Homo sapiens: one gene and its partner. The protein of the gene in region 2 interacts with the protein of the main gene of each other region in a pairwise test. Each region holds a gene or a part of one and is shown on either strand. Other genes may lie near its edges.

Region 1 (3,500 bases), on a different chromosome or scaffold from region 2:
CTCCAGTAAACAGTCTGCTTCTGCCATGTGAAACAAAACCAACTCCTTCTGAGGAGCCCAAGGGGGTCAGCCAAGGGTCCCCTGTGAGGGCAGCCCCCTCAGGAGCCAGAGCCACAGGCGCCTGACCTGTAAATCACTGCAGTCCCAAGTTCATTATCCCATCCCTTTCCGTCTATTTATGCCATGACCAGTGCCTAGGGAAGGACCCAGAAATGATGTGATGTGATGATACCATAGTGCCAGCCAAAATCCTTCTTCTACCTCCCTGAACTCTCCTTTGGCCAGGTTTCTTCATCTGCTGTGCTATGGTTGTGTGAAATTGACCTTCCTTGCATTTATTCTGTCTCCCTCGCAGAAATTTTATTTATGTCCTTGCTCTTGTTCTCATCAAGCTGTCAGGAAATGACAGTGTGCATTCTCTTTTTTATTTTCTCTCCTTTAAGGCTGGCCCTGGCCCTAAATAACCCACTGTCAGCATGAGGGTGTCTACTGGCGACATTACTCTCCAAGCACAAATCCCTGGGATGGATAGTACTTTAAGCTGCTACTAGAGCAGGTGTCAAGGAATTCTCCGATGGACAAGGACACCGGCCTGTGGGGTGGGTGGGGTCGAGGAAAGGAAAGAGCCATTTCATTCAAGCCAGTCCTGCCTGTGCCCATTCTATTGGGTTTCTGGGTCCCACATTCCTCATAGAGCATGAGACTGAGCCAACATGCTCATGGCTAGTTTCCACGGGGAACCTCCATCATGGCACCTGAGCTACTGAAAATCAAAATCGCTTGATGCCAGGCTGCTGTGGCTACTGACTCAGCCCCCTGCCTCCCACCTGCCATCGAGATGGAGAGCGTTTATGTCCCCAGAACATCTGGAGGCTGAAGTCACGAGGTTGGTTAGTTTGCTCCAGAGCAGCTCTGTCTAATAGAAATGTTTATGTAATTTAAATTTTTTTTGTAGTCACATTTAAAAAAATAAAAGAAGCCACTAATTTTAATACTCTATCATATTTAACTAATATATTCAAAATATTATCATTTTACCATGTAATCAATGCAAAGCTTATTAATGAGCTATTTTGGATTCTTTTTTTGTATTAAGTCACAGAAATCCCATGCATCTGTTATATTTAATGCACATCCTAATTTGGACCAACCACTTTTCAAGCACTCTATGGCTGCATGTGGCTAGTGGCTAGTGTGTGGGACAGTGCAAACATGTGACATTTCCATCATCATAGAAAGTTTTATTAGACAGTGCTGTGCTGGAAGACCAAAAAGTTGTGGGAAGAGGAGTGACAGGTGTGAGCAGAGTGTGCTCCAAAGTTCTCTAGAATTACTGAGTTGTTGGAGCTAATTACAGCAGAAATTGGAATTACAAGGATTGGGATGTTCAAGGAGCCCAGCCCTATGTCTCAGTAGAGATTAAAATGGGCTTTTATGAAAGGCCCTGGGACCATGCATAGTCTGAATGTGTCTGTCCCCTCCAAACTCCTGTGTTGAAATCCTAATCCCCAACGTGATGGTATTAAGAGGTGGGGCATTTGGTTGGTGATTAGGTCGTGAGAGTGGAGCCTTCATGAATGGGATGAGTGCCCTTGTAAAAGAAGCCCCAGAGAGGTCACTTGCCCCTTCTACCATGTGAGGGCACAGCAAGAAGATGCCATCTCTGAACCAGGAAAAAAGCCCTCACCAGACACTGAATCTGCCGGTATCTTGATCTTTGACTTCCCATCCTCCAGAACGGTGAGAAATATGTTTCTATCATTTATAAGTCACCCAGCCTATGGGATTTTGTTATAGCAGCCCAGACGGATGAAGGCAGACCATGCCCATGTTTTGCGGTGCTGCCCCACAGCAGTGGGAAGGCCAGCAAGTATGATCATGGCTCAAGACATCTGCTGGCTAAGCTGCCTCCATCTTAGCTGTTCTGGTCTGTTCAGGGCAGGGGCTGGGAGAGAACACCAAAGTCACATACTTCTTCCAATAACAATTCTGGGTTTGAATCTAATTTGGTGAAGCAGATACAGAAACGTGATCAAATTATGTGTGCCTGTGTCTGTGTGTGCATGTGTGTTCGTGTGTGTGTTCTTGGCAGGAGAGAGGAGGGTCATGTGTGAACTCCAGAAGTACTAACCTGGCCGCCAAAATCAGCTTCTCACCAGCTGCCATCAGAGGACAGTGAAGTGGCAGACTCAAGAGGCTCATCAACATTGTGAGCCATGAAGGAAAGGCTTTGAGTCTGGAAAGAATGAGATGATGGGCACCCGGGCAGACGATCAGGTGGGAGGGAGAAGTGGTAATCAGAGGCATTCTCCAAAGACAAGAGCTGCCAACTCTACAGCAAGGATGTCACCCTGATCCCCAAATCAAGCTTAATTCAGAATCCCACGCAGGCTTTTGTGTGTGGGAAGAGTGCAATTAGCCATCTTTCCCCCTCATTCTCTGAGGTCTCCCTCATATTCTGTTCAGGGAGGCAGCATTGAGGAGCTCCTCATACATAGATTCAAAGCCCAGCTCCCTCGGTGGCTCCAGAATTTCTAGGAGTTTGAAGACTACCACCTGGTTGGAAGGGGGCTACGGGGCTTGCTTTAACGATACATTTGCATAGCAAGTTCCCTCCTCATTTTCCTATAGAGTGTTTGTTTATTTGAGACAGTTTCTAGTTAAAAATACCTCACCCAGCCTTTGGTCCCTCGTGGACTTTGAGTTAGTTGCTTAACCTTTCTGAGCCTTAGTTTCCTCACCTACAAGATGGGAATAATCTTGCCCATCTCCCATGGATTTTGTAAAGATTAAACTGGGGCTTGTCAGCATGGAGCTACCAAGGGCTAAAACTGGAATATGACACCAGGAACTTCAGGCCCCCAACCAAACGTACAAATCTCTGGATCTCTCCTTGCTGGGTCTCCCTTAACAATGATCTACAGCCCCCTCCCCACTGCCATTCACTCCATCAGTGCCATCATTTAGTCACTCAACTCTCATTTATTAAGCAACAGTTGGGTGGTGGGGACTCCAAGATGAAAGGGTACAGTCTGTCCATCTGACACAGGGTATTTCGGATCTATCTACTTGGCACATAAGTATGCACTGTGGGTGACTGGGTTGCCCACTGGTGGGCTTCCACCTTCCCCCCAATCCCCACCAACTGTGTACCAGATTTTGCCAAGGTGGAGGGGCTGAAAGATCCAGCAGGAAGAGATCCAGAGATTTGTATGTTTGGTTAGGGGCCTGGAGTTCCTGGTGTCATACTCCAGTTTTAGTCCTTCGTGGTTCCATGCTGACGTGTCCCACTTTAATCTTTACAACGTCTATGTGAGATGGGAAAGATTATTCCCATCTTGTAGGTAAGGAAACTGAGGTTCAGACAGGTTAAGAGAAATAAATAAGAGACCTGGAGCAGGGGAATAGGGACATGTTGCCCCTTTAAATCATAACCACCAAAGTCTGAAATCAGATACACAACTGGAAATTTATCTGAGCCTCAGATTCCTTATCTGTAA
Region 2 (3,500 bases):
GACACAAATTTACCTATGTAACAAACCTGTACATCCTGCACAGGTACCCATGAACTTAAAACAAAAGTTTTTTAAAAAAGAAAATAAGAATACCTATTCATCATTGGGTATATTGTACAAAAAATAAAAGCAAATTAAATGAAAAAAAAATTAGCCAGGCATAGTGGCACACACCTGTGGTCTCAGCTACTCCAGAGACTGAGGTGGGAGGATCACTTGAGCCTGGGAGGTCGAGGCTACAGTGAGCTATGATCTTGCCAATACACTCCAGCCTGGGGCGACAGAGTGGACCTTGTCTCAAAAGAAAACAACAATGACAAAAGAAAATCCCTATAGAAAATGAATAATTTTTTTTGGTAAGGTTGGTATATTTTTCCCTTTGGGTCTCAGAAATTATTTATGCATTAACGATAACCAGTGAAATCTAAGTATTGAAAATGTTTTATAAATAGACTTTTCTATGACTGTACCTCTCATATCATCTCCATTCATATTTCATATTGATGTGTAAGAGAATTCTGCATTGATCAAGACTCTTTGGATCTGTTTTGGGCAGCACTTATTCAATTATTAATATTTTAAAATCTTTTTTTATTTACCATTTACAGGAAATAGTAGTAGAAAAAAAGTATAGCTTTTTATGGTAATGTTTGAGGATCAAAACCTTAGTAAACTTTATTAGTATCTCATATCTATTTTAAACTTGAAAACATGTTATCTTATTAATTTTCCAGGTATAAAATGAACACTGTACATATCCTGCAAACGTTTAATTTATTCATATTGAAATCTAACGGAACTGCTAAGGATTTAGGTGATTACTTAAAAGACCTCGATATTTCTCCTAAGTGCTGTAGGAAACCATAGATACTTGGAGGCTGGTATGTTTGAGTCTCTGTGTGTGTATGAGATGTGTGTATATGGGGTGTGTGTGTATGTGATGTAATTGTGTTAATAGTTTATAAAGGGCTGGGCGTGGTGGCTCATGCCTGTAATCCCAGCACTTTGGGAGGCCAAGGCGGGCAGATCACGAGGTCAGGAGATCGAGACCATCCTGGCTAACACGGTGAAACCCCATCTCTACTAAAAATACAAAAAATTAGCCGGGCGTGGTAGTGGGCACCTGTGGTCCCAGCTACTCGGGAGGCTGAGGCAGGAGAATGCGTGAACCCGGGAGGCGGAGCTTGCAGTGAGCTGAGATCCTGCCACTGCACTCCAGCCTGGGTGACACAGCGAGACTCCATTTAAAAAAAAAAAGTTTATAAAGGTCACTTTGATCACATTGTGCACGGTAGGATAGAGGAGATAGGTATGGATGTGGGAGATATTGAACCAGTTCAAGTGAAACAATGGTGGATGAAAAGATATATGGGTGACAAAGTTGAGAACTATTTCAATGGTCTTTACCAACATGCTGACTTGGAAGATATAAGTGTTTTATCCCATGACTTTGATGACCCCTTTATGGTCCATCCATTTGCTTATTTCATCCAAGAACTCCACTGGTTAGATGATTATAATATTCACAACCCAGGCCACTCAATGTTATATCTCCAATATCGTAGGGACATAGAATATTTATTGATTTTGAATAGCATTATTTCTTATGCATTGGTCATGTTTTGCAGGGCTGGTGCAAACTTGAGATTGAATGGTCAGAAAGGAAAGTGTGGGAGTTGTATGCTTAGCATCTTACTTCTCAAACAGCTTGGTGTAGTATACAAAGTACTGATTCAGAATTTAGAGAGACCCTGAGTAATCTCTATTTTTTGCTAGCTGCTAACCTTGGACAAAGTTCTTAACTTTCCTTGTAAGTTGATCAGAGTAATAACTTTCTTGCAGGTTTGTTGTAGGTAAAGGCAGAAATGCATGTAGATGACCTGGAAGGATGCTGGGCTTCTCCTAAATAGTATCTTTGGTATTCTATTATGATTACTTTTGGAGCAGAACATAAGCTTGCAGGATAGTGTTAAATGCAAGGTAAAATTACTATTTTATATTTTGCTTGAAACTCAAATAAAGATAAATTTTTATACTTACCATCAAGATGCTCAGGATAATAAGATCATTCGTGTTCCACACCAAGCGTGAAGGTTTCATGTCTGCCTTGCTTTATTAGTGAAGATAAGTTTTTTCCTTGGCTATTTTTGGATGTGTTGAAACAAAGCAGTTTTATATCAACCAGTATAATTTTCCCCTTCTCTCACATCGAGAAGTGAGCAGGAGTTGTCTGTCTAAGCAAGTAGTTTTCACATATCCAACATGCATCTGCAAAAACTTAACAATATCCTCTAGAACACAGGGAATCTTTCTTGGACAAAGTTCTGCTCATGTTCAGCCTCTCTCTTAGAACTAGAACTGAGTGTTATTCCTGCTCAGTGGCTCCGTTTCACCCCACCAAAGCTGACAGTGGGGCATGTGTAACAGACTGAACTGGAAGTTGGAGGAAATGAAGTAAAATTACAGTTCTATCACATACTGGCTGTGGGAACGTGGATATGTCACTTAACTCACCGAGCTTTTTTTCATTGCCACCTGTAAATTGGGAACACATATATTACTTATCTCAAAAGATTGCTATGAAGATTAAATAAAGGCACATGTAAAGACACCTGGAATAGTGCCTGAATGTAGTAGGCAGTTGTATCCACCCAAACTAGTACTGAAAAGAAACTCATTGACTTCCATAAACTCAAAGTCTGAGGAGTAAAGATGGCTTCAGGCTTGGCTTGGCTCAGTGTCCAAATGATAATCCCAGGTTTTATGTGACAGTTCTGTTTCTTCTAAAATAGCTTCATTCTAGCTCCATATGGTGACTTTCAGAAGCTTTGAGATCTCCCCACACTATCTCAGTAAAAGAGAGATATATTACTACTCTCTGCTGTCATTATATATACTATGTGTCAAGCACTGCACTTTACACAAAGCTCACAGGGTACAAATGCAATGAGGTTGGTTCACTGAAGGCAGGAAGAGGGTACTGTTGCTATCAGAAGAGGAGTGGAGGTGAGGCTTTTAAAAACTAACAAAATATGTACAATATAGCATTTAATAATTGCTCAAAACAAATAAGGTCAAGAGGCTATTTGACTGTAATTGACATTTGCACTCACAATAGTGCCGATTTCCAGAGCAGTGGTTCTTAGCTAGAGGTGATTTTGCTCCTAAGGGACATTTGATAATGTCTGGAGACATTTTTGATTGTCACAACCTGGGCAGGGGGTGTTACTGGCATCTAGTGCATAAAAGGGCCAGAGATGCTGCTACAGGCACAGAATAGTCCTTGACAACAAAGGATTATCAGGTCTAATCATGTGGTTGAGAAACCCTACTCTAGCAGGTGTATGAGCCATTGAAAATCATCACTACCATTTACTGAGCCCTTACTATATGAAAGCCTCTGTACTAAGAGGCTCATTACCTCATTTGAGCTACTCATTATCATACAAACTAGGGGATACAGTTATTTCCCTCTTAAAATGAAACCTGGGCAATGGCAA

The links. Proteins that work in one complex are often made in the same cells at the same time.
Region 1: the proteins of DOK5 (region 2) and RAI2 interact in a two-hybrid assay, tested with the Homo sapiens proteins (one large-scale study listed by BioGRID and IntAct).

Annotation. Positions count from the first base shown.
Region 1 is NC_000023.11:17,854,799-17,858,298, forward strand, and holds part of RAI2 (retinoic acid-induced protein 2), read right to left. Parts: intron 1-3,500.
Region 2 is NC_000020.11:54,594,093-54,597,592, forward strand, and holds part of DOK5 (docking protein 5), read left to right. Parts: intron 1-3,500.